2 linked regions of the Homo sapiens genome follow. The protein of the gene in region 2 purifies or fractionates together with the protein of the main gene of each other region. This does not show direct contact. Each region holds a gene or a part of one and is shown on either strand. Other genes may lie near its edges. The genes, in order: NUDCD1 and DHX32.

Region 1 (17,076 bases), on a different chromosome or scaffold from region 2:
CAAAGTACAGTTTAATTTTAAATGGACTATAAGCAATAAAATATCTTTTTCTCTAAATCCCAAAATATAGCATTTACTTATATCTGAATAACCTCTATTGACAATTTCACTACATGCCCTCATAACAACACTTTATATGCTAACTGACATCTATAATGTCCAGCTCTCACATAATCATTTTCTTTTTCCTCACAAAAAGAGTTAATGTAACTACGTTCAAGGGCTAACACTGAAAATCATTCTAAGGCAACATTACACAGCTGACTGCAGAAGGATTAAAATTTCATTGATGAACGGAATACTTACTGAATCAGTATAATGTATAAGAATTTTATTAAATAAGTGCTTTGACTTTTTGCCATGTCATGTATTTATCACCAAACTCTATGAAGTTAAAATTATTAACTACACTTAGAAGAGAGGTTCAAAAAGATTAAATAATTTGCCTGGAGCTCCACTGCTAGAAAATGACAGGGCCAAGACTCAAATCCTGATAAAACCCTACTCCAAAAGTTGGTTTTCTTTCCCCTACTCCACATTTGCTTGAGAAGAAACCACTTCTGAAGATTTTCTAAATAAATTAATACTTCAGATCTCAATACAATTTCTAGTATACCCATCCCCAACCCCCCAAATCAACCTTGAATGTAACTACTATATTCAGTTTTTCTTCAGGCCTCTACACAGTATTTTTAATGCAGATGCCTGGGTCAATATAGATGTAATATAAAAATTATAATGCCCATATATTATATATAAATGACACTGTAAATAAACAGTAAACAAGTAATACATAAACTATATATATTTATAAAAAACATCTTTAAACACATTTTGGGACCCTCTTAGTTGCAGCTATAAGTAGAGAATCTTTGAACTAACGAAGTAGTTTTCTAATAAATATAGATTTATAGAAAGGGCTACTCAAGTTTAAAAAAATAAGCAAGTGGGGATACCATTTACTAGTATTATTAGATACTATTTACTAGTATTATGAGACAATGATATTTAAAACTTTGCCGTTTTAAAAGGCAGTGATCTTTTTCTGGACAAAGTATTTTCATCATTAATAACCATTAACTTTATTTGGAAGAAAGAACATAAAAAGTTCCTTTTTCCTTTTCCCTTTTTTTTGTATTAAACGCACAGTTCTACGTATTTACCCCACTCTTTATTTTTTTCTTTCATCAGGCATTGCAGCTCAAAAAATGTTACTCCGAAATAATGCCACTTCAACATGAAGCAGCCTCAAGGTCTTTCTGGCCTCCCCTCCCTTCCTGTTTCTCCCAAGCACAGGATGAAGCTATTCTCTGAAGTTCCTTCATCTACCTATAAACTGGACCTGCCAAAGAGAAACACAATTGCTTTCCCTGAAATTTCATTAACCAGAGAAGATTAAAACTTCTATCACAGAGGAAGAGGCTGAAAATTAAACACCCCACCTACAGCCCAGATGAACTTAGTCACAAACCATTGTCTGCTCTCCATCCCATTCAATTTCCAAAGAAAAGTATTAACTAATCATTGTCTGAGCATCAGGCCCATTCATTCATTTCCCCCTAAAGATCATTTGCTATCCCGCATGTCCCCCATGTCCCCTACTGATCAAGCATAAGAAGGGTATGAATAAGGGTATATAAGCATCTGTACCCCACTGGGTTACTGGGTAGTCATTTTCCTGGATTCTGCCATGTACACATGTTAAAATATATTTATATGCCTTTTTCTCATGTTAATCTGCCGTTTGTCAACAGATTTTCAGCAAACCTTCTAAGAATAAAGGGGACACTTTGCCTTCGTCTCTACACAGGTAAGTAAGTGGTCCCCTAATAATTAACTCAACTGTGAAAACAAGCTGACATTCAGGCCTAGAGATGAACATACTGACATAAAACTGAGCTCCTCTAACAAATAGTTGTAACATGTCACTCCAAGATGCAACCTCACACATATATTCTTACAAATGAAATCCAGTAACTGCCCCTTAGACCTTTAAGTACAAATTAAAGAGGCACTATAAGATGACACTCTTTTAGTAACAGAAACAAATTAGCTTTTCAGGTAAATACAAAACAAATTATTACAGAAATAATTTCCTAAATATTAAGAAACGGAACACATTACTTTAAAATAAGCCATAATATATAAAATAAGGATGTATTAAAAAACCAAAGTTTAAACACATTTTTGCTTTCCCAAGGCATTTTCTACTTCCTTAGCACACTTCTTTCCGAGGGACATTTCCCTAAAATTAAGGACTGTAAACCTACAAGTTAAACTTTTTTGTAAGGAGAGTATTCTGTCTTTATAAACCAGTATGTAGACCTGCTGCCACCTGTTGGCTCCAGACAGTCTGAAGACCTAGCAACCTATGGCTTTCAAGTGTTGGGTCCCATAGCATTCACTTTTACTACAACAGTTCAGGTTTAACAAAGGTGGTCATTTGTACATCAGTCACAGAAAAGGAGCCTGTCTAGGATTTGTGCACGTGTGCCTTTGATGAAAACAAAAGAAAACAAAAAAAATTATTAAACAATAAAATGGATATTGGAAGAGCTGTTTTCTGCTATAAGCCAATAGTCTAGTTAGTGGTCAACATTCTCTACCTGCCTGCACCTGACAGAAACTCAGAGTAGGTTGATTTCATTTGTTGCTGATGAGAAAAATAATAAAAAATAAGTGTAGTATTCTTCTGTATCCCAGGTACAAAATTTCTTAATACCTGGTCATCCCTGGACCACAAGCAAAACCACCTGAGGTGCTTGATAAAATGCAGGTTCCCAGTCCATGACCAACCCTGACAATAATGAATCAGAATTTTGGGAAATGGTACCTTGAAATTAGTTTTTGTTTTGATCAATTACTCCACAATTATTCCAAGGTACAATATGGTCTGAGAACCAAAGAAAATTAAGCAGAAAACAAGCTTTAAGAACCTAAAACATGGTTCTTTAAAAATAAACTAATACCTTTCCTAAAGCTTGATTAGGTAAAAAGAGGAAAAATATAGAAAGGAAAGAGAAAAGACAACAATAATCTTAAGAGCATAACGCATGCAACTTTATAGCAGCATATTTGGAAACCTAAGAGGAAACTGATGGTTTCCTCTAATAAAAATACATATTACAAAATTACCCTAGAAACACACTTTGAATAAACCCATTACTGCACAAAAAACTGAACAGGTGATTAGAGAACTGGCACTGAAAATGATAATAGAGACCAGGAGCAGTTGCTCATGCCTGTAATCCTCCAGCACTTTGGGAGACTGAGGCAGGCGGATCTCTGGAGCCTAGGGGTTCAAAACCAGCCTGGGCAACATGGTGAAACTCTGTCTCTATTAACACATAATATCCGTCTCTATTAACAAGAAATAAGGAGAACTGGTAGAGCACTGTGGCATTCTGGAATAAATGAGTTTAAATCCAGACTCTTACAAACATCCTATGCCTCAGTTTCCTCAACTGTAAGATGTGGATAATAATAGTATCTGGTATATCAGGATAATATCAGGATATTATCCTATGAGAAAGGATCCACAGGATCCATTGTTCTGTGGATTAAACAGTTAGTACGTGTAAAGTGTTTAGAATTGTTCCTGATATGTAATAATCTCTATGCAATAAAAGTTACCTGACATTATGATTTATTCTTATCATACAGTTCTACTGCTCTCAAAGAAGGAATATGTGCAAAAAAAACTAGCCAGTGTTTGTCTCCCATAAAGTGATACCCCAAGGCATATGCCAGTAATATCTCTTTATATTTGCATAATGCCTTCCACTTTTCAAAGCATTTTCACACACCTTGCTTTAACGTCTAAAAAACCTTATCATTATTCTTATTTTCTATGAAACTGAAGCCAAGGATATATGGAGACTGCTGTACCCTTTTTGTCAGCTACATATTACCATGTAATAGTTACCTGTACACTCATATTAGCACCTAAAAAGTATAACATATAAGTTACCTGAACTTATATGTAGAAGTATAAGTACTTGAACATGTTAAAAATAATGGTAAAACAGTTTTTATTTTTGCACCAACCTATACATTAGTGTCCTACACAGAGCAGGTTTTCAATAAACACGTTAAAATGAACTCATTTGGTAAGTCTGTCTTAAATGTCTAGTTTCCTTTTGACCAACTACCCTACCTCCCTAACAACACGTATTAGAGCTACATTACATGTGCCACAAGATATCTATGGAAAAGTAAAATAGATTATGAATATGGATGGTACTACAAAAATTAACACTTTCAGATCTACCATAATGTCATCTGACTTCGAGTCAGAAAATTGGTAGAATAAATGTTATTGGCAAACTTTATGGTACAGCAAATGCTATCAACAAATGCCCTATTTGTTAACACAAAAAGGATTAAGGAAAAACTTTCATGCACATACACACAGAACTCTACATCAAAATCTATTTGATCATTAAAATTTATTTGATCAGAGAGATCAGAGCATAGCCACTCATAAAAATGCATGTCCTATCACTTTAGTTGGCTTATACACATTGGGCCTAGATAGTAATCCTTAGTAGAACATGGGGCTAGCAAGAAAAAGCAACTAATATCTAAGAGTAAGAGGCCAGATTGCATTCCTCTGATCCAACAAGAAACAATCAGAATTTTACACTATCTGTTTTAGGAGTCACCTGAAGGAAAATATTTATTACCAGGAAATGTCTAACTCCTTTCTGAACATTTTGAGATAAACACTGCATTGCCAATACAGAACTCATACCTACACTTGGATTAGAAATAACAGGAGGAAGACCCTATTCCAAAGCCAACTCCCAACAGTAATAATGAACTTTACACAGCTATTATCCATTCAACAAATATACTGATCAAGCCTTCTGCTGGGTGCTAGAACCCATGGCCTCGTCCAGTGGGTGGCAAACTATAGTCCACAGGCCAATTCCTGCCCATTTTATGTTTTTTTTTTTTTTTTTGAGACGGACTCTTGCTCTGTGGCCCAGGCTGGAGTGCAGTGGTGCGATCTTGGCTCACTGCAAGCTCTGCTCACTGCAAGCTCTGCCTCCCAGGTTCACGCCATTCTCCTGCCTCAGCCTCCTGAGTAGCTGGGACTACAGGGACCTGCCACCACGCCTGGCTAATTTTTTGTATTTTTAGTAGAGACAGGGTTTCATCGTGTCAGCCAGGATGGTCTCGATCTCCTAACCTCATGATCCGCCCGCCTCTGCCTCCCAAAGTGCTGGGATTACAGGCGTGAGCCACCGCGCTCGGCCCATTTTATGTTTTTGTAAATAAAGGTTAATTGGAACACGGCCACACTCACTTGCTTATAAACTGTCTATGGCTGATTTCACACTACAACAGCAAAAGCGAGCAACAAGAGACTATCTGGCCCACAAAGCCTAAATTAGCTGGCCTTGTGCAGAAAAGCGTATCAACCTCTAGAATAGAAGAAATTCACAGCACATGTAGATTTGAGAGCCAATGGTGTGAATATTCCTAGGGGAACAGAGGTAAGATGTCAAGGCAAGCTTGCTAGATGACAAAATGGTTACCTAGGACTTAAGTAAAGATTGCAAAGCAGACTGACACTGAATTAAAAGTATGCTCCAGGTAGTTAATCAATGAGAAAAGGACCAGAAGAAATAGGATACAGCACATGTCTCAGGAACTGCAAGAGTTTAGTATGGCTAGAATGTAGTATACAAAGTGCTGTAAGACAAGGTTGGAGAAAACTCGGCATATAAACGTATATGCAAAGATGAAAAGTTTATTTTAAGAATATATATCATTTCATCAGGGAGCCTGCCCCAATATTCACCTAGGTTCTTTTCTATTTTCCCTAAGCATCGGCCAGCTTGAGAAATTAAGGGACAGAGTACAAAAGAGAGAAATTTTAAAGCCGGGCATCCGGGGGAGACATCACATGTCAGTAGGTTCCATGATGCCCCACTAGCCGCAAAAACCAGCAAGTTTTTATTAGGGATTTTCAAAAGGGGAGGGAGTGTGCGAATAGGTGTGGGTCACAGACATCAAGTAGTTTACAAGGTAATAGAATATCACAAGGCAAGTAGAGGCAGGGCGAGATCACAAAACCACAGGACTGGGGCGAAATTAAAATTGCTAATGAAGTTTCAGGCACCATTGTCATTGATAACATCTTATCAGGAGACAGGGTTTTGAGATCAACCGGTCTGACCAAAATTTATTAGGCAGGAATTTCCTCTTCCTAATAAGCCTGGGAGCACTATGGGAGACTGGAATCTATTTCACCTCTGCAGTCTCGACCATAAGAGACGACCATGCCCAGGGGGGCCAGTTCAGAGACCCACCCCCAGGTGCACATTCTCTTTCTCAGGGATGTTCCATGCTGAGAAAAAGAATTCAGCGATATTTCTCCCATTTGCTTTTGAAAGAAGAGAAATATGGCTCTGTTCCGCCCAGCTCACCTGCGGTCAGAGTTTAAGGTTATCTCTCTTACTCCCTGAACAATTGCTGTTATCCTGTTCTTTTTTCAAGGTGCCCACATTTCATATTGCTCAAACACACATGCTGTACAATTTGTGCAGTTAATGCAATTATTACAGGGTCCTGAGGCGATAGACATCCTCCTCAGCTGACAGGATTAAGAGATTAAAGAAAAGACAAGCATAGGAAATCACAAGGGTACTGATTGGGGAAGTGATAAGTGTCCATGAAATCTTTACAATTTATGTTTAAGAGATTGCAGTAAAGACAGGCATAAGAAATTACAAAAGTATTAATTTGGGGAGCTAATATATGTCCATGAAATCTTCACAATCTACGTTCTTCTGCCATGGCTTCAGCTGGTCCCTCCATTTGGGGTCCCTGACTTCCCGCAACATCATTTTGTGTTTATACTTGCAAAAAACAACAACAAATAACCTACCACATCTGGAAAGACACACAAAACCAATAAAGACATTGCAGGGGAAATAATGGATACTGGAGATAGGATAGATAAAAGATGGGATCAAGGAGGCTTCACTAAATACCTTTTATAACTTTTTTGGTTTTTAAATTACATGAACACATTGCCTATTTTTAAATTACATATTAAAAACATGGATTTTGCCATGAAGGAAATATTAAAAGAATTTTAGCAAGTGATAATATTAAACACGCAAATCAGACAGACTACTCTGTAGATGCAATGCGCAGGAGGGCTAGAAGGAATAGAGTACTTAGGAAGCTATTAACAGATTATTGGCTGTTTGAAGCAAATATATTAACAATGTATTGTGGAGTTTCCAGCATATGAAGGTGAAAAACATATGATAAAATTAGCTCAAACAATGAGAGGGTAAGTGAAAGGAATTATATTGTTGTAAAGTTTTCACATTGTTTTTAAAGTAAAATAATATTAATTAGAGGCAGACTGTGGTAAGTCAAGGAAAACACTATAACCTCTGTATCAACCATTTAAAAAATAATAATACAAACAGGTTTAAATAAAAAGCCAAAAGAGGAAATTAAATCGAGTTCTAAGGACATTTTTTTTAAAAAGAAAAACTGTGATTAATTCCTCCTGCAAAAAAGTAGGAACAAAGACACCAAGGAACAAAGAACAAACAGGGCATAATGAGAAGAGCAAGATGGTAATATTAGCCCAAGAATATTGGGAACTAGATTAAATTAAGTATAAATGTAAGCCCTCCAATTAAGAGAAAGACTGTCATATGGAAAAAACAAGAGCCAACTATATGCTCTTTATGACACATACTTTAAAAACAAGAACACTGATAAATAGAAAAAGCATATAAGAAGAAAAATACTAATTTACAAAAATCCAGAAATAACTGTATTAATACCAAAGAAGATTTCAAGACAAAAAATATTCACAGAACCTAGAGATAAAGAGACATTTTAAAATGCTAAAAGAATCAATTCAGTATAAATAAAACAATCCTAAATGTTTGTACCAATTAACATAGTTAAAAATACATAAAGTAAAAACTAAAACAAAAGCAAATTCATCATTATAGTTGGGGACAACACCTCACATAGGAAAAGCAGACATGAACAGTTACATCAGTATTAATAATATATAAAATCCATGAGAGTTGCTGCCCAATGGTGAGAGTGGAGGTGAGTAAGTGTAAATAACAGGATCAAAGAGAAAAATTAAAATTGAAATAAGAAATGGAGTATTACGTAGATAGGATTCCATATACTACAGGTATGTGCACCTCACTTCTCTGGATATTAGATTCAAAAGGGAAACTTAATTATCAAATTTGCTTGATATTACATACATATATTAATTATTACATACATGTTTCTCTTACCAGCATTACTGTTAAATTCATAATTCTTCCAAGGGTATCAATATAGTAGACACTGTCTTGATACCATGAATCACAGTGCAGGTAATTATACATTCCAAAAGCATGCATGTGTTCCAGTGTATATTGATCATCTCGAAGTTTTACCTCTGCCACAGCTGAAATACAAGAAAAGCAAACATAAACATCAAGAGTTTTGCCTCAGATAGTTTCTATCTGTAGAATGCCTACAAGGCAAAAAAAAAAATCACAGAATGCCAATCACAAAGGCCTTCAGGACAATTCAGTATATCATTCTTTCAAAGATAATTTCTGGGTACTGTGTACAGAGGATAAACAGTAAGTAAAACTGATATGGTCCCACGTCCTTACAAGACTTAGAATACAGCGGCCACAGGAGATAGGGCTTTTTATGTCATGACCCTCTTTTAGGCACCTCTAATAATTATGAATAAAAATAACAGAAATTCTAAAATTGAAGAATCTACCATTTCCAGGAAAATGTTAAGCCCAATTTATGAAGTGTTTATATACTTTAAAAATGTTTTAATATACTATTATCTCATTCATTTTAATACACATTAAGAAATTAACTTTTAAAATCTCATTATACAGTTATATAAATAAATGTATACACAAATAATGACTTCTCCAATGTTATACTACATCTTTTCCAAGGGTACAGAGCAAAACAGTATCACAGCTGGACTAGAAACAAGATCTCCTACTTACAGAACAGAGATTTCTTCACTTAAGCATTAGCTGCTTCCCTAGGTTTAAATCTAGCAAATGTGATCTCTTCCTCCCACTCCTCCTGCCCTTTCATGAAGATGGAAACTTTCATGGCTCAGAACTGCTCATGATCTGGAATTAATTTCTGCCCCAGCAGGAAACATATAAATGGATTATGCTGGGCCAATATCCTACCCTAATATAAAACTCACTTTACTGTATTCTGATGGCAACTGTTTTCTTCCTCCCCCAAATGCTCACCTGTTCCCACTTCCAATACCTGCTTTGAGTCCTGTCTGACTTATATTCATTTATACAGAAACTAATATAAATTTAAAAATAAATAAATAAAATTTCAATAGGCATCGATGACACAGTGATGAGCCAAGAATGGAATCTTGCCAATTAGCACTTATGATACAGTGAGGAAATGGGCATTAGTCAAATAATCATATAAATCTTAAATAATTTTTATGAAATAAATTTTATATAATTAAATTGTGATAAAGAATAATCACTGGGTACCATGAGAACACATAATGTAAGAGTTCTATTTGGGGAGATTAACAAAAGCTTTCCAAGGTTTGAGCCACGACATAAAAGATAAGAAAGAATTAACTTAAGAAAAAGTATTTTAACAAGAAGGTGAAAGACTTCTACAAGAAAACTACAAAACATTAATGAAAGAAATTGAAGAGGACACAAATAGACATCTCATGCTCATGGATCAGAAATAAATCCATGTACATGTAGCCAACTGATTTTTGACAAAGGTGCAAAGAACATACACTGGGAAAAGGATACCTTCCTCAATAAATGGTGTGAAAATTGGATATCCATAGCAGAAAAATAAAATTAGACTCCTATCTCTCATCATATGCAAAAATCAACTCAAAAACTATAAAAATACCAAAAAGGAAACAGAGAAGAAATGCTTCAGGATATAGGTCTATGCAAAGATTTTATGGTTAAGACCTCAAAAGCATAGGCAAGAAAAACAAAAAGACAAATGGGATTATATTTAACTAAACAACAACAACAACAAAAATACCTTCTGCAGAGCAAAAGAAACAAACAACCTAGTGAAGAGACAACCTATAGAATGGGAGAAAATATTTGCAAACTATTCAATCGTAAGGAATGAAAATTTTTTTTGCTGTTGAAGCAAAAAAAAAAAAGTCCCATTATAAAGAGGGCAAAGATCTTAATAGACATTTCTCAAAAGAATATATAAATAAATAGCCAACAGTTACATGAAAAAATGCTCAACATCACTAATTATTGAGGAAATGCAAATTGAAATCACAATGAGATATCATCTTCCTGTAGTTAGAATGGCTATTTTCAAAAAAATACAAAAAAAAAAAATAACAAATGCTGGCAAGGATGTGGAGAAAAGGGAACATATAATCTGTCAGTGGGAATGTAAATTAGTATAGCCATTATGGAAAATAGTAAAGAGGTTTCTCAAAAAACTAAAACTATAACTACTATACCACAATAGGCACTCCCACAAATGAATATTTATCAAAACAAAAGAAAGTCAGTATATCAAAAGGAATACCGTCACTTCCATGATTATTTCAGCACTATTTACAAAAGCCAAGACATGGGGGAAACCTAAGTGGCCAAAGGATGAACAGATAAAGAAAATGTAGTATATACACACACTGAAATACTATTCAGCCATAAAAAAGAACGAAATTCTATCATTTGCAGCAACATAGATGGAACTGGAGGTCATTAAGTGAAATAAACCAGGCACAAGGCCGGGCGCCGAGGCTCAGGCCTGTAATCCCAGCACTTTGGGAGGCCAAGGCGGGCGGATCACGAGGTCAGGAGATTGAGACCATCCTGGCCAACATGATGAAACCCCGTCTCTACTAAAAATTCAAAAAACAAATTAGCTGGGTGTGACAGTGCGTGCCTGTAATTCCAACTACTGGGGAGGCTGAGGCACGAGAATCGCTTGAACCCAGGAGGCAGAGGTTGCAGTGAGCCGAGATCGCTCCACTGCACTCCAGCCTGGGACAGAGTGAGACTTCATCTCAAAAATAAATAAATAAAATAAACCAGGTACAGAAAGACATCATACACGCAGCTAAAAAAGTGGATTTCATGGAGGGAGAGAGTAGAAAGATAGTTATCAGAGGCTGGGAAAGATGGGGGTGGGGGATGAAGGGAGGTTGCTTAATGGGTACAAACATACAATTAAAAGGATTAAGTTCTCATGTTTGATAGCACAGTTGGGTGACTACAGTTAACAACAATATATTGTGTATTTCAAAACAGCGAGTACCAAAATAGCTAGAAGATTTCAAATGTTCCCAACACAAAGAAATGGTAAATACTGAAGTTGATGAACACCCTAAATACTGATTTGATCATTACACACCGTATGCATGCATCAAAATATAACATAAAATCCCAGTTTATCAATTTAACATATTTTTAAAATAAAAAATACACCTATATACATGCATACCCACTCCTCTACTTTTCCAGACAGAAGGAAAATCTGTAAAAAGTAGGAAGAAAAACTTGTGTTCAAAGAACACAAAGAAGGCCACACTGTTCAAAGAAGGCCACACTGGCCGAAATGCAGAGCAACAAGGGGACTTGTACAGGAAAGGTTGCAATAAATGAAAACTCAGCAAGAACTGGATTATGAATGGACTGTATTTATTTTTGTTGACAAATTCAATTTAAAAGAATTCATTAACAGTTTTTAAGCAGGAGAGTAAAGTTCAGATTTGAGTTTATAAAAGAGTACTTATAACTACAATATGGAAAACAAATTGGAATAAAGCAGGGTAAATCCAGGAAGATCCATTAGAAAGCTATTGCAATCATCTGGTTGAGAGATAATGGAAACATCTCACAGGTAAAAATCCAATTATGATAGATTTGATAGAGGTTGAGGAAACATATAACACCACTTATTTTATAAGCAACAGTTAGAAATATGTATTCTTGGTTTTCTAGCACCACTGTGTGGATGAAACTCGATACTGCAGGAAAACTGCATGGTAACATAAGGGCCTGAAGCAGTAATATTAGACAACGATATAACAAATACATTTTCTTCATATCTGTGCAAAGACCTCTGGGCAATCCTGAACAAACTGGAGGCTTCTTAGACATCAGTCTTATTACAACACTTCATGATTGTTTCATTCCAACAAAATAATTTATATAAGTTATTAAGACACAGATGTGAGTCTAGGCCATATTACATGCTATTTTGTAAAATCTCTATTAACGCATAGAAAAAGGACACCTCTCTGGCCTCAAATGAGAAAGGAAAAGTTATCACATGATGATGACCATGTCAATTATCTTGATTATAAAAGTGGGAGGCAGAGCAACTGAAAGTAGAAAAGCAGTGTCCAGAATGTGACAGTTCTTAGCTACTGGCAGAGCTCTTTTGCAGAGTTCTCCCAAAAAAAGAAGTAGGGGGCAGCGAGGCTTCAATCTCTGCATAGATCTTTGTAAGGGTTGAAGAAGAAGAACTTTTTACAGAGAAGCCAGTGTAGTAAATATTTTATTATTTAATGATACCTTGCATTGAAAATAAAAGAGCTTTGCTGAAAAATCTGATAAGGATTAGTCTTCTAAAAAGAACTTAGGGCCTCAAAAGAAGAGTCTCCCTTAACATTTGCCCAAATACTTACCGAACCTCAAAACCTAGTTTTTCACACATGAAAACCACAAAAGCCTCATGGGACCTCAAAGGGCTATAGTTTTTCATTCATAAATTATTTATTGAATATCTACTATATGTACCAGACATTGTGGTTGGCATTGGGCACAAACAGTGAATAAAACAGACCTGTCTCCTGCACTAATAGTGCTAACGATGATATTCATTACTGTTTCTTGGCTTCTCAAAATACACTATTACTTGAACCACATGATATTGCCAATATTTAACTCTTTGACACCAATTAAATATGATGCAGTCTAATATTTACATAAGCAAAGTATAATAATCTTTAAAGAGGGGGAAGAGAGAGGCCAAGAACGTTAACTTACAAAGGTCACTTCATGGACCACTTAGCTTCTAGAATCAACCCAATAAGCCTTCTTTTCACCTAGTTACTGAGCTTGCTATTTATCTATGAAGGTGTAAAAAAGTAAAAGTACAAGTCCACAAATTCTAAAGCGAGACTTAAAGAACACGGGAGGACCAGAGTTAAGAGCACTGCTCCCATAAAATTATTTTATGCAATACTTCTCTGACCTCAACACATTCATGTGGGTATTTTCCCCATCTTTTCCTCCATAAGGGTAGAGATGAGTTTTATAGTCAACTCTACATAAATACAATGGTTACGTGGCTTTTCCCTCCCTTTACTCTAACTGTAGTGTAAATCTTCACCAGCTTTTCTTCCCTCTGCTCTGAAGAAAGAAAAAGGCCAGAGTGACCACAAAGATCATTAGGAAAAGCATGAGCTTTAGGGTCAGCTTTGCCACTGATGAATAACTTGGTTAAGTTAGCTCATCTTATTGCCCATTTCCTCATCTATAATAAAGGTTAGTAATACTAATTGTACCAAAACATTGACAAGCTTCAGTCGAAATATGCAATGTATTTACTATCAATGCATGGCACATAAGATTAAGCATTGATTTCCCTGTTCCTTTTCTCCCATTCAAGGCTAATTCCCACACAGGTGTTTATGATTCAATTTTCTCCTGCCAGAAGTTATCTCCTGTCCACTGGTGTTTCTCCTCCACTTACATATGCTGAAACTTCCCCACTCGCAAAATAAACAAATAAAAAAGGCTTCCTTTTCTCTGCCTGGCCGCTAAAGCAGAGCTCTCCCCTACCTTGTTCTTCTCAAACTTCTTTAAAAAGCTGTTTATACATCCATTTTCTCACTATACTCATTAGCCCTTTTCAATTGTTTCTAGCTCTATTATTCTACAGAAAATATTTTTTCACTTAAAAATATACATTGAATAACTTTTGTTTGCAGCCAACATGGAAGAATAGGAACCAGATTTATCTTTCCACCAGAAACATCCAATAAGATGAAACAAACCAGAGAAAGTTAAATGAAACAACAGTTTTCAAGACATCAGACATAAAACAACAAAGGACACTTATGAGATTAGCCCCACCACCAATCTAGTTTACTGCCTTGAGGAGTTTCCAGACCACAGCACAAAGAAGGGAAAGTGAGGTATAGTCAACTCTACATAAATACAACGGTTACATGGCTTTTCCCTCCCTTTAACTGTAGTGTAAATCTTCACCAGCTTTTCTTCCCCCTTCTCTGAAGAAAGAAAAAGGCCAGAGTACTTGTATGCAGAGTTGACTTCAACCTCCTTGAGTTGAAGAAACTAGGCTACTACTCTGTCATTAGACAGAGTAGCAGAGAAAAGAGAGATGCAGAGAGAAGCCCAGAGATCTGAGAGTCTGCCTCAAGTACTCAAGAGTACTAATGGCATGTGTTTGAGGAGATTACCCCAGGCTACAGAAAGAACCATCTGAAAGGGTTGAAGAGAAATCCTGGGCACTCACATAAGGCTAGGAACCATAACTGCTCCCAATAAGCAGAATGGAGAAAACCCTTAATTTGTGGGATACTGGGTAGTGTACACAGGAAAGTCTTGCCTCGGTAGTGGGAAATAACCCTAGACTGAGCACTGCTCCTGATCGGACTAACAAATCATAAAAGCAAGAACCAATGGAATTAATCTGTTTCCAAGTAACTCAACTATATCCCGGAAAAAAAACTCAAGAACATTATAAAAATACAAAAATAACCTGCACCTAACAAGGTAAAATTCACAATGTCTGGCATCCAATCAAAGATTACCACATATGCAAAGAGGAAAGAAAACAAAATCCATAATGAAGAGAATTACCAATCAATAGAAGCCAATATAAAACTGACATGGAAGCTACAATTCACAGAACAAGATGTAAAAACAATTATTGCTACATGTACTCCATGTATGTTCAACATAAGTAAGTAGAAGCAAGAAAGATGCAAAAGATTTAAATCAAACTTCTAGATGTGAATATTACAATGTCCAAGATGAAAAATACACCAGATGGGATTAACAAGAGACTAATATTACAAAAAAAAAAAGTAAACGGAACTAAAGGCATGAAAATGGAAACTATTGGCAATAAAACAGAAAAAAGTATGAAGAAAAAATGAAACGGGCATTCATGAGCTGAGACCAACTTCTGTGATCTAAAAATGTGTAACTGGAGTCTTCAAAGGAGAAAAGGAGGGGAAAAAGTTGGAAGAAATAATAGCCAAAATATTGCCATTGATCTTGATAAAAACTATATGTCCGCAGTTTATAGCCCAACAAACCCCAAACATAAGAATCATAAAGAAAACCACAGCTGGCCACAATATTATCAAACTGCTCAAAACCAATGTAAAAGAGAAAAATCTTAAAACAGAAGAAAAAAGGCATGTTATGTATAGAGCAACAAAGATAGGATAATGTGAGATTTCTCATCAGAAACAATATAAGCAAGACTGAGGCTATAACTTTAAAGCATTGAAAGAAAAAACTGTCAACCTAGAATGCAGAAGGAGCAGAGAGATGGTTACAGAAGGGTACAAGGAAACTTTGGGAATGATAGCTAAGTTTAGTATCTTGATTGTGGTGATGATTTCACGGGTGTATACATATATCACAACTTCTTAAGTTGTACATTTTAAATTTGTAGTTTATTGTCAATTATGTCTTCATAAAGCTGTTTAATTTGTGAGACAAATTTATGTCCTACTTACCAGGCATGCTCCAACCCTGGAGATAAAGCATTGAAAACGATGGACATGGGACCCTTCAATACAAAATCAATAATCTTAGCAAAGAAAACATACTGGATGCTACGAAGTATGATAAAGTCTATGAAGTACTGGTTACTATGGCAACGCATAATACAGATTCTATAGTGTAGATTCTGACTAGTCAAGAAAGGAATCCCTGAGGAAGTAACATGTAAGCCAACATGAAAGAATGAAGTATGAATTAGCTAGGTGAAATATAGCTGGGAAACATATAAAAACATATAAAAAGACTTGTACTAAATGAAGATTCTAGGAAAAGGATATTTATAAATGCCTAGGAAGGAAATTGCCGGATCAAAAGACAATTACAATTTGATTAAAAATAAGTTTTTTGTTTCGTTCTTTGGAATAGAAAAAGACAAAGTGACATTTACTGCTTATGTAGCAAAGGAAATTTTGGTACAACTTAATAACATTATTTAAGACAAGAGAATAAGCCTCATTGCATCAAGTTCTTGACACCAGAGACCACATCATCTTTACATCTTAAATGCAGTGTTTCAGGTAGCCAAGGTGCCCATCAAAGGTTTGTGGAACTAAAGTGAACTCCTTCAGTTAGAATAAAAGAAATCAAATTACCAGAAGCGCCTCAATTATGCTTCACTATCTCTAGAAATGATAGTTTTTAAACAAAATAATCTTTTTCATCATCCTCAAGTAATTCCTAATGAAAAACTCATCATGTGAACTATTGCAAAAGCCTCCTATCTGCTGTGTGCAGTCATCTCATCTTCCAAACTCAACCTCCACAGAGTCTGAGGTAAGCTTTTCAACTCCCGTATCTGTTCACGTCCCTTGTACTTAAAATGTGGTACACATACGCCATGGAATACTATGCAGCCATAAAAAGGAACACAATCATATCCTTCAAAGGGACATGGAAGGAGCTGGAAGCCACTGTCCTCAACAAACCAACGAAGGAACAGAACACAAAACACCACATGTTCTCACTTGTAAGTGGGAGCTGAATAATGAGATCACATGGACACAGGGAGGGGAACAACACACACTGTGGTCTGTCAGAGAATGGGGTAGGGGGAGGGAGAGCATTAGGAAAAATTGCTAATGCATGCTGGGCTTAATACCTAGGTGATGGGTTGACGGGTGCAGCAAACCACCATGGCACACGTTTACCTATGTACCAAACCTGCACATCCTGCACATGTACCCCGGAACTTCAAAGAAAAAAAAAAATCGGTCGGAGCAGTGGCTCAGGCCTGTTA
Region 2 (17,076 bases):
AGACTAATTATGCATAGGAAGAAGACAAATATTCTATGATTTCTAACTTAAAATACTAATTATATAATTGACAAGAACAGGAAATTGGAAAGTAAAATAAAATAAATGAATGAAGCTAAAGAGCAGCATAAAGTTCTTTTGGGGGGAATCAGGAGTTAGGAGGGTAGGAAGATGACCTTCAGGATAGTCAGGAAGATGGTCAATGTTATCAGAAGAACATCCAGGCATAACCATCCTGGGATCAACGGAAAAGCAAGGCAGGAGGCTAAGGGAGAGGTCAGAGCTAGAGATAGGCATGGTAGTTGCAGAATTTCAGTACTGAAAGAAATCTCTGGAAGACATGAAGGCCAACACCCTCATTTGATGCATGAGGAAAGAAACTTAGAGGCGTGACTTGTCCAAGGTCATACTGCCAGTAAACAGCATGACCAGAACCAATCCATATCTTCTAGTTTCTTGGCGAGTATAATTGCCACTACATCACAGTTGCTTCTAAGCATCTTTATAGAAAGGTGGCAACTGAAGCCATGAAATTCTCAGGCAATCAGCATTTTAAATTACTCTTTCTAGGCTGGGTGCGGTGGCTCACATCTGTAATCTCAGCACTTTGGGAGGCCAAGGCGGGTGGATTATTTGAGAGGTCAGGAGTTTGAGGCTAACCTGGCCAACGTGACGAAACCCCATCTCTATTAAAAATACAAAAATTAGCCAGGCGTGGTGGTGGGTGCCTGTAATCCCAGCTACTCGGGAGGCTGAGGCAGGAAAATCACTTGAACCCGGGAGGCGCAGGTTGCAGTGAGCTGAGATCACACCACTGCACTCCAGCCTGGGCAACAGAGCGAGACTCTGTCTCAAAAAAATAAAAAATAAAAATAAATAAATAAACTACTCTTTCTAGCCTAATGGCAACATCAGGGGGACAGTACTATGATGACAGTGGGCACTGCTTTACATAGCTAGAATCGTTGCTGAAATAATACTATCCAGTTTTATTAAAACATTTGGACACGTTCAGCCTGGTTATTCATATAAGGTCCAGGACAGCTGCTTTCGAACTCTAAAATTCGACAAGATTCCAATGATCATGAGCCATGTTCTCAAGCTTCTGATTTGGGCCTTTTTTAAAAACTGCATTTAATTTATTTCTCTTTGCTCATGAAACACATTCTGCAAGATTAGTTTATTACAGTGTGTTGATAATAGTATAAACATTATACATTCCTGGAAGTACAACAAATATACCAATCCAACAGTCTTCATTTTCCTTTTCTGCCTTCCTCTACATTAGAGCAAACTATTTCACCTATGAGGCAAAGACATTAATTCAGAAATGGGAAAAGGCCATCTAAATATCAGTTACAATAACCAGTAGAAGACTGAACATATCCATATCGTGCTTAATGTAGGAATGTTTGCTTACGTGCCCAAGTTAATAGTTGAGCAGAAGTCACAACAAATTATACTGCACGTACTCAACTGTGGCTCTGACCACATAGGATGCAGCTCCCCTTCCAGTAACAGCTACTTGGAGATAGTTAACAGTAAGCAATGCAAACACAAACTGAAAAGGTTATCTCCAGCCAGAAAAGAGGGAAACATGAAACCATCTGCCTTATTTGTTAGAGTTCTCCAGTTTTACATGCCTTCTGAATCACTCTGGGCAAGCTAAGTAACATACTGAGGGTTGATTCCTTAGCAAACTTGAATTACTGGCTAAAAAATGTTATCATTTGGCAAATGTCGATAATTTGAGTATTTCACATTTCAAGGGATACTGAGATTGCAGCTTTACAAAGAACTCTTGCCTTCTCTGCATTTATAGTAAATATTGTATCTCTTGTTGGTATTGACCTTTCTTCCCCTAGTTCTGCTTCTTTTCTTTTTTTTTTTTTTTTTGAGATGGAGTCTCACTCTTGTTGCCCAGGCTGGAGTGCAATGGCAGGATCTTGGCTCACTGCAACCTCCGCCTCCCGGGTTCAAGCAATTCTCCTGCCTCAGCGTCCCAAGTAGCTGGGATTACAGGCACGCACCAGCACACCTGGCTAATTTTGTATTTTTAGTAGAGACGAGGTTTCTCCATGCTGGTCAGGCTGGTCTCCAATTCCCAACCTCAGGTGATCCGCCCGCCTCGGCCTCCCAAAGTGCTGGGATTACAGGTGTGAGCCACAACACCTGGCCTAACTTTTCTGGGTACTACTTAGCAACTTTTTCATTGTCCCAGTTGCATCTTTGTCTTCTCACCAATGACTTACAAGCCTGTTAGAGGTTTTGTTTCTACCCCATAGTTCCTCTTTGGAAGATATTCCCCCCTAGTATTAAAAAACATTATTCTGGATGGACTAGTTGCCAAGTTGGCACTATGGGAATTAGAAAAGCTTAAATAGTTGTACCTTTCTATGAATCATTTGGCTTTAACTTTTTTCAGAGAAACATTGAATTCTGGGTCACTTTGTGACTGAGTACTTAGCAAAAGTTGCACAATATGGTGAAGAAACAGAAAATTGCTCCTCTAACACATAAAAAAAGCTATTTTCATGTGATTTATCCTGGGAGTTTGGTGATGTGCAACCCTTGGATTTACGCATTTGGTCTGGAAATGCTCCCTAACTAGAAATCAATACTTCACATCTCTTTATTCTGAACTCACCAAATACTTTTTTCATGTTTCTCAATCCATTTTCTAAATTCAGTTTTCTGTACTTCTGATGTGCCATTTGCATAAAGCCAGAGCAGTGGGGCCTGCCCTATGCTCTGTCCCAAAGCCCAGCTGGAACTGACTCTGGGGCATGCAAGGTAAGCAATCGAGGCATGAGAATGTGCATCCCTGGCCTCTTACCGCCTACCTGAAAGGAAATCACCAACACTCTGGCCAATCTGCTGCTATGAGAGTAGGTAAGAGGAGTCCTCCGGGTAATCAAAATCTAATCTAAATCAAGGCTTTATCAACCTAAGTTAGCAACTGCAGTTCTACAACTTGTACAAATTCAGACAGTGAGGCAAAGATGCTCCATTCCCAACTCCGGGCAGCACACAGAGGTTGGGCTGCTGGGTAGTGGGAGAGCTGGGGCCTGGGGTCTTTAGGGTGGGCTGCAGGGAGATCTCCTATAAGAATCTGCAACCAGATCCAGATCAGAATCAAGGGAGCAGCAGCGGCATCACGTATCCGTGTATGGTCTCATCACTGCCACTGTGGCAAGAGGACCTCCACATGAGCTACACTGGTGTAGAACTTTCTGTCCTTTCCATCTACTGCCAGTGATTGTTTCACCTCATCTAATGGATAATAAAGTTAGTTAACTATAATTTAATATAGTTAAATGAGAATAAATGAAGTGAGAAAAAAAGGACCTCCATGAGACACAATGCTATTACTGTTCTGTTAGACACATACTAGTCCCAAAGGCCTCTAATCCCTCACTTTTGATCATCAGGACGTCCATCAGGGCCTGAGTCCTCTTCTGCTTTCTTCTCTTAATGTCTCTAGGACCACCAATCCTGAAGCTACTGCCAAGGTCCCAATCACTCCCTTTAATTTCAGTACCAGAAAAACAGAATCTACAAGTTTAAAGGAATCTAAAGAACCACCAATTCACCCAAAGGTGAATTCAACACATTCAGTGTTGAATTCATCAGCACAAGCTCATGGTTTTTAAGTTTGCAAGTCTTAATGGTTTCAACAACATTCCTGTAAAATGCCTAGCCTGAGTATGCCCCTAAGGCAGCTATCCCACCCAAAGTGAGCCAATATATCAGAATCCATTACTGAGGAGTGAGGTCCCTTCTGAATCAAATATCACACATCCCTGGATAACAATTCACATACATCTTGGTTTTGAGTGAATACAGGTAGAACCTACCAGCAGAAAATGGTGAACAAGTTTACTCAGTCAATAGAAGTACAGATGTTCTAAGTCATACATCTTTTAGAATCTAAGTTAATTCTTTTTCATATCTTTTCATATCTTTTTCACCTCACTGACCCATCCATTCATGGGAAATTTCAGGACAAAAACTAGAGAAGGAGAAATAAGCAAAATATACACTTCTAGAGATGTTTTTCTCTCTCTTTTAGGATCGTTCATAACCTGTCTGCAAAAAATGTAATAAGAAAAGATTCTATAAACATATGGGAAATTGTCCTCTGTTTCTGCACCAAAGACAGGTGAAATCTTTAGGACCTTTGTAAAGCTTGGCTCTGAAGAAAGACTTTTTTCTTGAAAGGTTTAAAACTCTGAAGAACAAGAAAACAGTCTCGCAAACTCTTAAAACAACAACAACAAAAACCAAGTTGTTTCCAAAAGAAACCAACCAATGCTCCCACTATCTAAATTAGTTTAGGATAGATCCATTTTCTTATTTGAGTACCATTTTGATTTTTCTCACTTTGAAGATACATGTCGTCCCAATTAACAGAAAATAAGCCTAATTCATTGAAATAATTGAGAAATTAAAAATGACAAGAGAAACCATTGCTAGGTATTAATATAACATATAACATATAACAATTCTTGCTCTTGAAGATGATAAATTCTAAAACTCAAGAAGTAGATTAAAAAAATTTTTTAAACTGCAGTGTGGATTAGCAATTCTGAAACTACAATATGAATTGTTCTTTTGAGTATCTTTACTTGTTCAATCTGAGAACAGGTAAAGATAGTGTGAATAACACGAAGCCCTGTTTCTCATAGAGAAGTTATGGATATGAAAACTGGGAAGGCTAGAATAAACCCTGTAGTGCTAAACTGGAATCAGAGGCATCAGTACAAACTCATGGTTTTTAAGATATAGAAAGAGAGATAAAAAATATGAGAGGTAAGAAAATAGAAATACATAAAAATAGAGAAAGACAGAGAGAAACAGAGCCACAAATAGATGGATAGAATGAGACGTGTGTATATTGCACTCACATACATTTATTTCCTTGTTGTGTCCACTGAGATGGCCTAAAAGCAATGATAGGCCGGGTGAAGTGGGCCTATAATCCCAGCACTTTGGGAGGCCAAGGCAGGTAGGTTGCTTGAGCCCAGGAGTCCGAGACCAACCTGGGCAACATGACAAAACCCCGTCTCTATAAAAAATACAAAAATTAGTTGAGTGTAGTGGCACACACTTGTAGTCCCAGCTACTCTAAAGGCTGAGGTGGGAGGATCACTTGAGCCCAGGATGTTGAGGTTGCAGTGAGCCGTGATCATGCCACTGCACTCCAGCCTGGGTGACAGAATGAAACACTGTCTCAAAAAAAAAATTGCAATGATAAACCAATGGTAATAGGTACTTAGTGTCCAGATCTTGGTTTCAAAACACAGTTCACCACTAAACGGAACAAGGACTCCTGGAGAAAAAAAAAATGGTTTCTACACCGGCATGCGGAATGTACTAGATGAACCTGGAACATCTTACTGAGCCAGAAAGCAAAGAAGTGCTCAATAATGGGGAAATGTCAAAAGGACAGAGAAGCCACATTGGGGGCAATTTGAACAACAAAGTAAGTAGGCTTAGTAATACATTATAACCCATAGAATAAAATAAGAATTTATGAGTCCACATTGACATAAATAAATGATGAAGGAGAGAAAGCTCAGACTTACAGAAAGATTCTAAATAATGTGTAGAAGGCATGTCAGAATTAGAATAATCATCTTTGGTTACTACTAATGTAATAATTCAAAGGTAAGAATCACCAAAAATGCTAACACTAGTGGATGAATGTGAAACTGCCTTTGCAGAAATTGTAACAGTGAGAAAATTATGATGGTGAAGGAGATCTGACCTGACAACTCCATCTTGCCTTTCACCCCCAAACTCCCTTAGCCATTCCTGCAGTGGGCCAAGCTAACTTTTGTAGATAGTTTATAGTTTAAATGATGACAGCAAAATGAAACTGCCTTTGTAAAACTAATGAAAGGACACCAGGTTAGGAGGATGAGAGGGGCCTGAATTCTGCCAAGATGTAGGTGTAGTTAAATGATTACCAGTCATTATTCCAGAGGTCACAAGATTTGTAACCTCCCTGTAAATAACATCACTATTATAGAACCTAAGATTGGCCTTCTGAGATGTCTTTTCAGGTTTTTGTATTTCTGACAACTGGAGGCCCTATAACTGGATAGACCAGTAACTCCTCTGTTGTCCCTACCCAGAAGTGGACTCAGCACATGAGGACTGTTTTCCACACCTCTGTGATTGCATCCTCAGCCAATCAGCAGTACCCATTCCTTAGCCCCCTGCCCACCAAACTATCCTTGAAAAACTCTAGCCTCCAAATTGACAAAGAGGCTGATTGGAGTAATAGTACAACTCCTGTCTGCTGTTTAGCCAGCTTTATGTGTATTAAATTCATTCTCTATTTCAATTCCCTTGTCTTGATAAATTGGCTCTATCTTGACAACAAACAAGATGAACCCATTGGGTGGTTACAAATGTATAATGAGAAACATTTACATACTTTCAAAATATGTATCTATTAAATGATTGGAGGGAAATTGTTAACTTTTCAATAAAGAACCAGGCAGATACCACCTTACCAAGGGATCAGAATTAACATCACCAGCATGGGCAAAACTGACATCTTGTGCCTCCTGATATGAGGCACTGAGAAGGATACACAGCACTTGTGTGATCTTCTTGCCACAAATGCAGAGCCGGAACCTAACCCTAAGGAAACATCAGACATGTTCAAACTGAGGGAGGTTCTGCAGAATATATAACCTGTGCTCTTCAAAAATGTCAAAGTCATAAAGGACAGGGAGAGACTGGGGAGTTGTGTCAGATTAAAAAACGACAATAAAATACAATGCAATTTTAGATTGGATTTTGGACCAGAAAAACAATTTTTTTCAGTGATTATAAAGGCTATCAATGGGAAACTGATTAAATGTGAATGTCTAGAAATCAGATAATAATTAGATATCAACATTACATTCCAGATTTTGATAATTATGTTACGGCTACACACTGTTTTTCAGTAAATAAATACTCTGTTAAGTATTTGGAGGCAAAGGGCATCATGTCCTCAACCTACCCCTAAATGGTTCAGAATAAAAATGTGTATGAATGTATGGAGGGGGCAGGGAGGGAAAGATAAAGTTTATATGGTAAAATCTTACATTTGGGGAATCTGGGTGAACAACATATGGAAAATCTTTGTACTATTTTTGCAACTTTTTGTAAGTTTGAAATTATTGTAAAATAAAAACACATTTTTTCAATGTTATTTGTCCACAGAAACTAGGAAAATTATACTCAGTCAGTTCTCATCGTTAGCTTCTCGTAATGAACTGAAATCGTTTGTTATAACAATAACAGCGTAACAAAGAACAAATCATAATAAACCTTTGATACTGGCAGCTGTAAATCAGATAAAAAACATCTGTTGTCCAGCCCTCCTCTTTTCAAATTACCTTTAAAGTAAGTTAACTTTAGGGCAGGTACAGTGGCTCATGTTTGTAATCCCAGCACTTTGGGAGGTGAAGGTGGGAGGATCGCTTGAGCCCAGGAGTTCGAGACCAGCCTGGCCAAAATTGTGAAACCCTGACTCTACTAAAAATACAAAAATAAGCCAAGCATGATGGTGCATGCCTGTAATCCCAGCTACTCAAGAGGCTGAGGCACAAGAATTGCTTGAACCGGGAGACGGAGGTCATAGTAAGCCAAGACTGCCCCACTGCATTCCAGCCTGGGTGACAGAACGAGCCTCTCTGTCTCAAAAAATAATAGTGATAATAAAATAGGTAAACTCTAGAGATAATAAACAACTTGAAAGCAACAATTTATAGTAGAAAATATTCTTTTAACTCCAATTCAGAAAGCTACTGACATTAGATAGACAAATTATCAAATCCTTCTGGGCCACAGTTTATTCATCTGAAAAATGAAGGGGTTCCATCAGTTTCTAATTCTATTCTATTAGAGCATAGTCTATTCTACTAGATCTATTCGTAACTTCTCTATGAGAAATGGGACTTCTTATTATTCACACTATATGGTCTATTCTAATTCTTACATCGCGAGAATCTAGAAATGAATTTCATGATAAAAATACTGGTTGCTTGCTTTAAAACTTAAGAGTAAAATATGGATCTCACTTGAACAAAAACTTGAAGTCCAAATACAACAACAAACTGAATAATAAGTATTTATTAACTATCTAATGTTGGGGCTCAGGACATACCTCCCCAGAATATGACTGAAGGAGACCAGAATATGTGACCCCAAAATATGCCTCCTTTGCACATTTTGAGAAAGTGTAGACATAGGAGTAGCTCTGAAAAGTTACCTTTTTAAAGATAAATTTGTGCCTATACAAGAAATCTCTGCTTATAAGGGCATCTCCCTCTCTGCAACAGGAGGAGATGACTAAGTAAAGAAGACATCGACTTACATCTTCATAACAAACTTCACCTTCATTTAAGGTGCTTTTCCTGGCCATCTCATCTTAACAGGGTTGTTCCCCACAACCTTTTTTACTTTGTTTCAGAGAATGATGGTATTTAAGCCCAAAATTTAAATGCTTTCTTTGAGATCTACTCTAGAGACTTGCTCATTTCTCTGGGGTTTTCCCGTGTATACATGAGGCATACATATTAATACACTTCTGTTTTTCTTCTGTTAATTTGTCTTTTGTTACAGGGAGCCTCAGATAAGAGTTATGAAGGACAGAGAAAATTATTACTTTTTCCTTCTCTACACTACCTTGTTTTTCTTGGTGTTTTTTTTTGTTTTGTTTTGTTTTCTTTTTTTTTTTGAGATGGAGTCTTACTCTGTCACCCAGGCTGGAGTGCAGTGACACAATCTCAGCTCACTGCAACCTCCACCTCCTGGGTTCAAGTGATTCTCCTGCCTCAGCCTCCCAAGGAGCTGGGACTACAGGTGTGCATCACCATGCCCAGCTAATTTTTGTATTTTTTAGTAGAGTCAGGGTTTCACCATATTGGACAGGCTGGTCTCGAACTCCTGACTTCATGATCTGCCCGTCTCGGCCTCCCAAAGTGCTGAGATTACAGGCATGAGCCACAGCGCCCAGCCTTTTCTTGTTTTTTTTTTTTTTTTTTTTTTTTTTGAGACGGGGTCTTGCTCTGTTGCCCAGGCTGAAGTACAGTGGCATGAACATGGCTCACTGCAGCCTTGACCTCATGGGCTCAAGTGATCCTTCTGCCTCAGCCTCTTGGGTAGCTGGGACCACAGGCACGCACCACCATGCCCAGCTAATTTTTTAATTTTTTATAAAGTTGGGATCTTGCCATGTTGCCCAGCCTGGTCTCAAACTGCTGGACTCAAGCAATCCTCCTGCCTCAGCCTCCCAAAGTGATGGGATTATAGGTGTGAACCACTGCACCTGGCCCACTATCCCGTTAAACAAACAAACAAACTTTAATTGAGAGGCCATTAGGCTGAGGCAATGACAGAGCTCTAGAAGGTCCCACATAAGCAAACTAAAGTCCAATGTAAACAGTAAAACCATACTAGACTTTATCAATCAGAAACTGCCAACTATTCCCTAACTCGGAACTTTCCACTCTAACCAATTTAAATGTCTTTTGTCTTACTTTCATGTTCAGCCTATAAAAGCTCACTGCCCTTGCTGCTAGAATGGGGCTCACTAACCTCCAATGGTTCTGAGTGCTGCGTAATTCATGAGTCATTCTTTGCTCAAACAAACTCCTTGTTTTTTTTGTTTTTTTTCTGAGACAAGGTCTCTCACTCACATCGCCCAGGCTGGAATGCAGGGGCATCATCACAGCTCACTGCAGCCTCAACTTCCCAGGTTCAGGTGATTCTCTCACCTCAGCCTCCCAAGTAGCTGGGACGACAGGCATGCAGCACCATGCCCGGCTACTTCTTTGTAGAGACGGCATTTTGCCATGTTGCCCAGGCTGGTCTTGAACTCCTGGGCTCAAATGATCTGTCCACCTTGGTCTCCCAAAGTGCTGGGATTCCAGATGTGAGCCACTGTGCCTGCTCCAACTCTTTAATATTTTAATATCCCTAGGTTTATCTCTTAATGATCCTAATTCTTTCCCCCATCTTAGACCCCAAAGTGTGTGGCCCCAGGCCTGGATCATATTTAGTTGCTCAGTTATTTCTTATAGTCAGGAAAATCAGAATTTCCTTGTGCTTTTGATTTCAGTAGCTCAGCCAGCTTCACCAGCAAGCACATCCACATATCTGGATTCTCAGACCACTGGGCACTGAAACAGAGCAGTTAATCCCCATACCCATGCTGAGGAAATAACACGCATCACATCTTTTAAAATATCATATACACAATGGATCATTTGAGTAAATTTAATACTAGGATCATTTGAGTAATTTTAATACTGCTCTATAGACAATTCAGTGGTACCCTAAACACAATTAATTTCTACATAGATATTATTAACTTTTCAGCTAGTATTAGTAAAATTAATAAAATTAGGTACGTGATTTAATTATTTTATCTGAATAATGTTTTGTTTTTTGTTTTAGACACTATTATTAGAACACTAGGCTGTGACATGTCATTAAATAACAATTAAAAAATCAACACATACAGCAAATTATTTTTTGTAGTGGTTACTCACCTGAGCGCTCTTACCACATTTAGCATCTCCTGAAACAATCACGATTTGATTTTGAAGCAGGTTCTCCATAAAGGAGTATTTTTCTTTCCATATAGGAAGATCTTCTCTTTCTTTCAGAAGTTTATAATAACGTGATGAATATGGCAATCCATCAAAGGGGTTAAGTTCCAAATCCTCACAGGCCAAAACCTCTTCCTCATCCCCATCGCTGGAATCCAGGGATTCAGGAAAATAGCGTTTTTCAGAGGAAGAGTTTGGACACTCCAGCCCTTCTTCTTCCATCTTGTCTGACAGTGAGCTCACGCAGCTGACATTCCACAAGCAAGTTTCTCCTATCAGTAACCCATTGCAAACAGGGCTTAAAAGCCTATTTATACAAACCCGTATGTTCCAATCTCTAAGACTTCAGTTCAAGGTTTTAGCAAGTTAAATTCCTCAAACCTGCATCTGTTCTCCGTTGCTGTGTTACCCACTGTGCTGGCTCACTACAGCACTCTTCGGCATTGTAAATGATTGTCAATAAACCACACTAAGAAACAAACAAACAAAAAGAGTAAGGAAAATTAGGAACACATATAAGTTAAAAAGAAAATGCACAGGAGTTCAAATGAAAAGCATTATTTTTTTTTTTTCTGTTAACGGGTTTCTGTCATTTCTGCTGCCTGCTTAAAAGAACAGGAATAATTTAGGCTGGTGTTTAAAGTTTGGTGGGTTCCGGTATTTCCTGGCTGGTTCAGAAAATGATTCTGCACTGGGCCTCGTGCTCTCTGCCTGACCTCTATCTCAGGCTCTGCGTCTTGATCAACTGTGAATGGAAAGCAACAGGAGGGACAGGATTGTGATTGTGAGGCTAATCAATCACGTGGTCACCTAATCCCATGTCAAAAGAGGAGCTGGACCCTATAAAAGGAAAGAACTGTGATGACCTGGTGAGTGTTCCTCTAACACAGGCTACAGGAAAATCTATTATTAAGAAATCCTTTACTTTAATGAAAAACATTTTTAAAACTTTTCATTTTCCTTTTGCTTATGTCAGTTTAGAAAGCCAAGTGAGGGGAATGAATTTATTATTTCCTTCCATATGTAGTTATGGTTGGCTTTTATTTTATATATATATAAAAAAGACAGGGTCTCGCTCTGTCACCCAGGCTGGATGCAGTGGCGTGATCATGGCTCACTGCAGCCTCAACCTCCCAGGCTGTTTTCCCCCTGCCTCAGCCTCCTGAGTAGCTGGGACTACAGGTGTACACCACTATGTCCAGCTAATTTCTGTATTTTTTTGTAGAGACGGAGTTTTGCCTTGTTGCCCAGGCTAGTTTCGAACTCCTGGGCTCAAGTGGTCTGTCCTCCTTGGCCTCCCAAAGTGCTGGGATTTCAAATGTGAGCCACCATGCCCAGCTGGCTGGCTTTTATTAATAAGGTCTTTTGTTTAATTAAACCAGAAATCTCTAGCATATTTCTTGAGATTCCTGGGTCTTGAGCCCAACATGTCAGCTCCAAGAGGCCATTAAGGACAACTTTTAATTTAAATGAAGAAGAGAAATCACCCAAGAAAGAGCAAGATTTATACCAATAACTCAGTCCCCACATGTCAGGTGAAGGGTCTTTCCCCTTCCAATTACTAGTGATTAAAAAGAAAAATTCCATTAGTGTTGCTGGAAATAAGCTCCTTTTCACATTAACCAGATAAAAATGAAAAAGAAAACTCAAGTTAAAAAGAATAATAAAATACAGTTCATGATATTTTGTAAGTTACTGCACTTTTCGGATCACCTGGTTTACCTTAATTATTGCTTTAGATGGTTGGAGCCAGTGTGCTCAACAGCTAGTTCCTAATTAGTAAGTGATAAGAAAAGCTCTCTCTCTATTGGTCAAGACAGGCTCCAGGGCAACAGTCAATCACTCAAAAAACATTTGCTGAGTGTCTTCTAAGGGCTTATTAGATGAGTAAACTAGGCACTAGATACACACATAAAGGATATTTTGAAGATGGCAGCAAGAGCAGGATAGAAAGTTTTAAAATTCACAGATGAACAAGCTAGTTTAGAGGTAAGTAACCAGAGAGGCAGAAGAACTTCATAGCTCTTCCCAAGTAAAGTTCTTAAAAATTCATCTAAAAGCCAGTGTTTCAAAATTAAAATGGAATTACAAAGGCATAATAGAAATGTTGTAATATGGATTCACTTCAGAACTCTTCACTGCCTCTATAAGGTGAGAGTAGACCCACAGAATAGCTCCAGGAAGCATGGTAGCTTGAGATCATCGCACAAGCTAATTCTGGGAAGGTATCCAAGAATCAGAAAATTCCACTCTTCAGAGAAGTTAAAATTTAATTTTATATTCTATTTTTCTTTTGTTCTGATTAGAATCCCTTCCAAGGGTTCTCAGCCTACATGTAAATTAAATTGCTATTAAATATTATAACCAATGATTGCCTTAGGTAGTATTTCTTAACTGTTTTACCTTAAAAAAAGAACAGCTATTATTTTTACCAAAAAGAAATGTTTCTCTTATTTATAATACTCCCTAAGAGTGTAATAATCTTATAATTACAGTAAATTCTTACTTATAAAGCACTGACCACTTTGAACCCTGAGGAAATAATCAAGTTTTCTGAATAGTCTTCTTTCTAAAGACCTGAGACTTACCTGGCCCCTTCATCACACATTGTGCAATGTATCCACACACATTAGCCTTAACCACTTCTCTGTTATAGTGGAATTAAAGATGGCCACAGATTATTTGCCACTGTTCCAAATGGAGAGGTAGAGTCTATTTCCTCTCCCCTTGAATCTGAGCTGGCCCTGTGACCAGTGTCACTATGACTAAAATAATGCAGTTAAGTGATACTGAATCACTTCCAAGATATTCCCATGCTTGAAACACTCCTCTTTAGAACCAGCTGTCATTCTATGAGGTACCCACGCCCAAGCCACCGGGAAGAGACCAAAGCTGAACTTCCAGTCCACAGCAGCATAAACCTTCAACCATGTGAACAAGCTGCCTAAGATGCCCCAGCCCAGTCGAGCCTCCAGATGACTGCAACCCCAGCCAACTGAGCAGAAGCAGCATCCACAGGAGCCCATACAACCCAAAGTATCATGAGACAACAAATGGTCACTGTTTTTGTAAGCTACTAAGTTGCAGGGTGGTTTGACTTGCAGAAACAGATAACCAGACTTCTGCCTTCTTAAATAAACTATACTCACAATTTAACTTTTTCATTGTGACTCAAGGTCACCATTACATCAGTTGCCAAAACAGAATGATGTCCTCAGATGTCTCCGAAATCTACAGAAGCCAAAGACCAGACTGCTCTCCTGGAGCCCTGCTCTTCCCTGGGGACTCAGAACCCATGCCACTGTGTGGTGTGGCCTCTTACCTTGTGAGGCTCTTCTCTGCCTTTCTAACCTGCTCTCCTAACCGGTGCATTAGAAGCCAGACAAGCTTGTTTGACAGACACATTTGTAAAGCTTGAGTCCACAAAGGATGCTACCATTGAATCCAATGAGTCTGAGGCGCAAAACTATGACATTTATAGACTCTGGAACATCTATTTCGACTACTCAGAAGGACCTTTTGCTGCTATATGGTTTGGATTCCAAATTTGGAGGGTGGAGTGGCTGAGACCTAACTAGAGGAGTTGGGCCCATTGACTCCAATAACATTCATATACCTCTCCTTATTCATCTTGCAACTGGTGTAAGCCATGTAAATGTTTTTTCCTAGAGGTAATTAAATATGTACCAAAGATCTATGTCTTGGCCTTTGGCAAATTTAACAGTACCAGTCTAAAGAAAGAGAAACAAATAATATGGTAGGTTAGATGTCATTCAAAATAAAGTTTCATAACTGTTCTGTTGTAAGTATAAACTACATTCCACTATAAGAAATTTAAATCTGAAAGATTGACATTTGCTCTTTCAAAGCTATCATACATGTATATTGTAGATGGCACACTTTGTCAAGGACAGCTATTTGAAATCAATCTATTACAGCTCTTAAACATGCATCCATGAAAATAATACATATCTAATTAACAGACAACCTTAACAAGGTAGAATTAGAAGTCAATGTAAGATGAAGCTATGTCTTAGTCATTTATGTGTTTGGCTCTGGTCCAGTAATTCTAGAAATACAGTTCACAGAAATGGAAAGACAAAGTTTGTAAGGCATTAAGTGAAGCAAAAGCATTAATTTGTCCTGAGTAACTTATGTTTCACCATTCAGTGCTCCTCTTTTGTGTGTTTTTTTTTTCTGTATTCAAGCCAATATTACTGCTTACTTTTCATGTATCAAATACCCAAATACATAATTTTAGCACTTGGTAGATATCTGGAAGTTCCCAATGCTTAGTTCCTGGACCTCTCTTCCCCTTTCTCTCTTTAATAGGGCCTAAGTGGTCTCATCTCATCTCATGGCTTTAGTGCCATCCATACTTGGATGTATGGGTGTATCTGTCCTTAGGATCCATCGATCTAAACTTCAGTGTCATGTATTCAACTACCTATGCATCATCTCCCACTTGGATATTTAATAGGAAACTCAGACTTTACACGCCTGCAACTGAGCTCCCAACATGTACCCCAAAGCCACAAATCTGGTCCCCCCAATTTCAGTTAATTCCTTCCTTCCCATTGCTCAGATCAAAGTATTTGAAGTTACCCTTGATTTTTCTCTATCTTAAATCCCACATCTGGTCCTTCGACTGATGTGGTATGTAGAATGGCCTCCAAAGATGTGCATGTAGGAATCCCTGGAACCTATGAATATGTACTTTGCATGGCAAAAGGGACTCTACAGATGTGATTAAATTAATAACCTTGAGATTGGAAGATTATCCTGGACGATCCTGGTGAGCCCAATCTAATTACATGAGTCTTAACAATCAGAGGACCCTCCTAGCCACAGTCAGAGGAAAATATGACTATGGAAGAAGGTCGGAGAGATGCAATGTTGTGGGCTTTGAAGGTGGAGGAAGGGGCCACGGCCGAAGAATGATGTGAGTGACCTCTAGGAGCTAGAAGAGGCAAGGAAACAGATCATCTTCTAGAATTTCCAGAAACGAACACAGTCCTGCTGGCACCTTGATTGTAGTCCAGTGAGACCGACAACCGACTTCTGATCTACGAAGCTGTTAAGACAATAAATTACCACTCAATTTATGGTAATTTCTTATAGAAGCAATAGAAAACTAATATATTCAATCATGTCAGTTCTGTCTTCAAAAAATATCAAGTGCCCCATAACCTCTACTGTGAACACTTGGTCTGAGCCACTACCCCTCTCACCTGGATTACTGCAATAGCCTCCTAACCGGCCTTCCTCTACCCTTAGCCCCTTACAGTCAGGTCTCAAGCCTGCAGTCAGAGTCATCCTATTAAAGTCAGCTCATGTCTCCTCTGCTCAATAGTCTCCAATACTTCCCATCTCATCTCACTCTGAGGAAAAACCAAAATCCTTAAGAGGACCAACAATCACTGTATGATCTGGACCCATCGCCTCTCTGCCCTCATTTGCAACAGCTCCTACTTCAGTCTTCCCTAGCCAGACGGCTCCCCTGCTATTCCTCAAACACCATGGCAGATGCCTGCCTCTGGAACTTGGTGTTCACCCTTCTGTATGTCTGAAATGTTCCTCCCTCAGATATCCAAATGGCTAGCTTCCTTGCTGCATAAAGGTCGTTACCAAATGGCAGTTCAGTAAATGCTTCCCTGGCCACCCTATCTAAACTTTTACCGCTCTCCCACACTCCCAAAAACCACTTCCTAACCTCTTTAACTGCTTCATTTTTTCTCCTTAAGACCACCACCTAACATAATGTATACATTTTCCCTCTTTGTTTTCTGTTGGTGCCCTTCACTGGAATGTGAGCTCTATGAAGCAGGGCTTAGTGTCTCCACTGCAGTCTATCTTGCATAGTTACGTCCTTCATTATTTCACTCTTAGCTAAGTTCAAGGTAGTTTACTACTGCTGCATAGAGTTTAAACACTTCTATCAGGAATTCACTATGTTTCTGGATTTATGTGACTTTTTTGTTCCCTTCTGTTTATGATATATGATAGACTCTTGCTATTCTTAGAATTCTTTAAGACTCACAAACCCACAAACTGGAATATTTGTAGAGGCTCCTGGTCGTCCCTTGAATCATACATCCAAACCCCAAATTAACTCCTTTCAACATTTATTAAAGCTGCTTTCTTCTTGATCAATTCAGAAGAGTTATCATGTTGAAAAGTACAAAGCTGCACTGAGATTCAGACAATGGCATGTATCACGCTTGCTCTAGCAGATCACTGATCTTTGTGGGACCGCTTGTAAACTGCACATGCTGAGGAGGCAACATCAAGTATGAGGGGACTCTTGAACCGTTTGTACTAGTGATTATCTTTTCCCCATGTCTTTCTGTCTCTTTACTTACACTGTTATTGGAGCTACACCTTCTTCACTGGTAATTTCCACTCCTAAATCCAAATACAGTGGGTGACTAATTAATAATTACGGGCTGAGTAAATA

What was found.
Region 1: the proteins of DHX32 (region 2) and NUDCD1 purify together in Homo sapiens (co-immunoprecipitation; 3 studies listed by BioGRID and IntAct, with this or other methods). This does not show direct contact.

What each region holds. Positions count from the first base shown.
Region 1 is NC_000008.11:109,314,012-109,331,087, forward strand, and holds part of NUDCD1 (nudC domain-containing protein 1), read right to left. Parts: intron 15,924-17,076; exon of another isoform or gene 15,825-15,923; coding exon of another isoform or gene 15,794-15,824; intron 8,453-15,793; coding exon 8,298-8,452; intron 1-8,297.
Region 2 is NC_000010.11:125,869,984-125,887,059, forward strand, and holds the start of DHX32 (putative pre-mRNA-splicing factor ATP-dependent RNA helicase DHX32), read right to left. Parts: upstream 11,310-17,076; 5' UTR 10,842-11,309; coding exon 10,560-10,841; intron 1-10,559.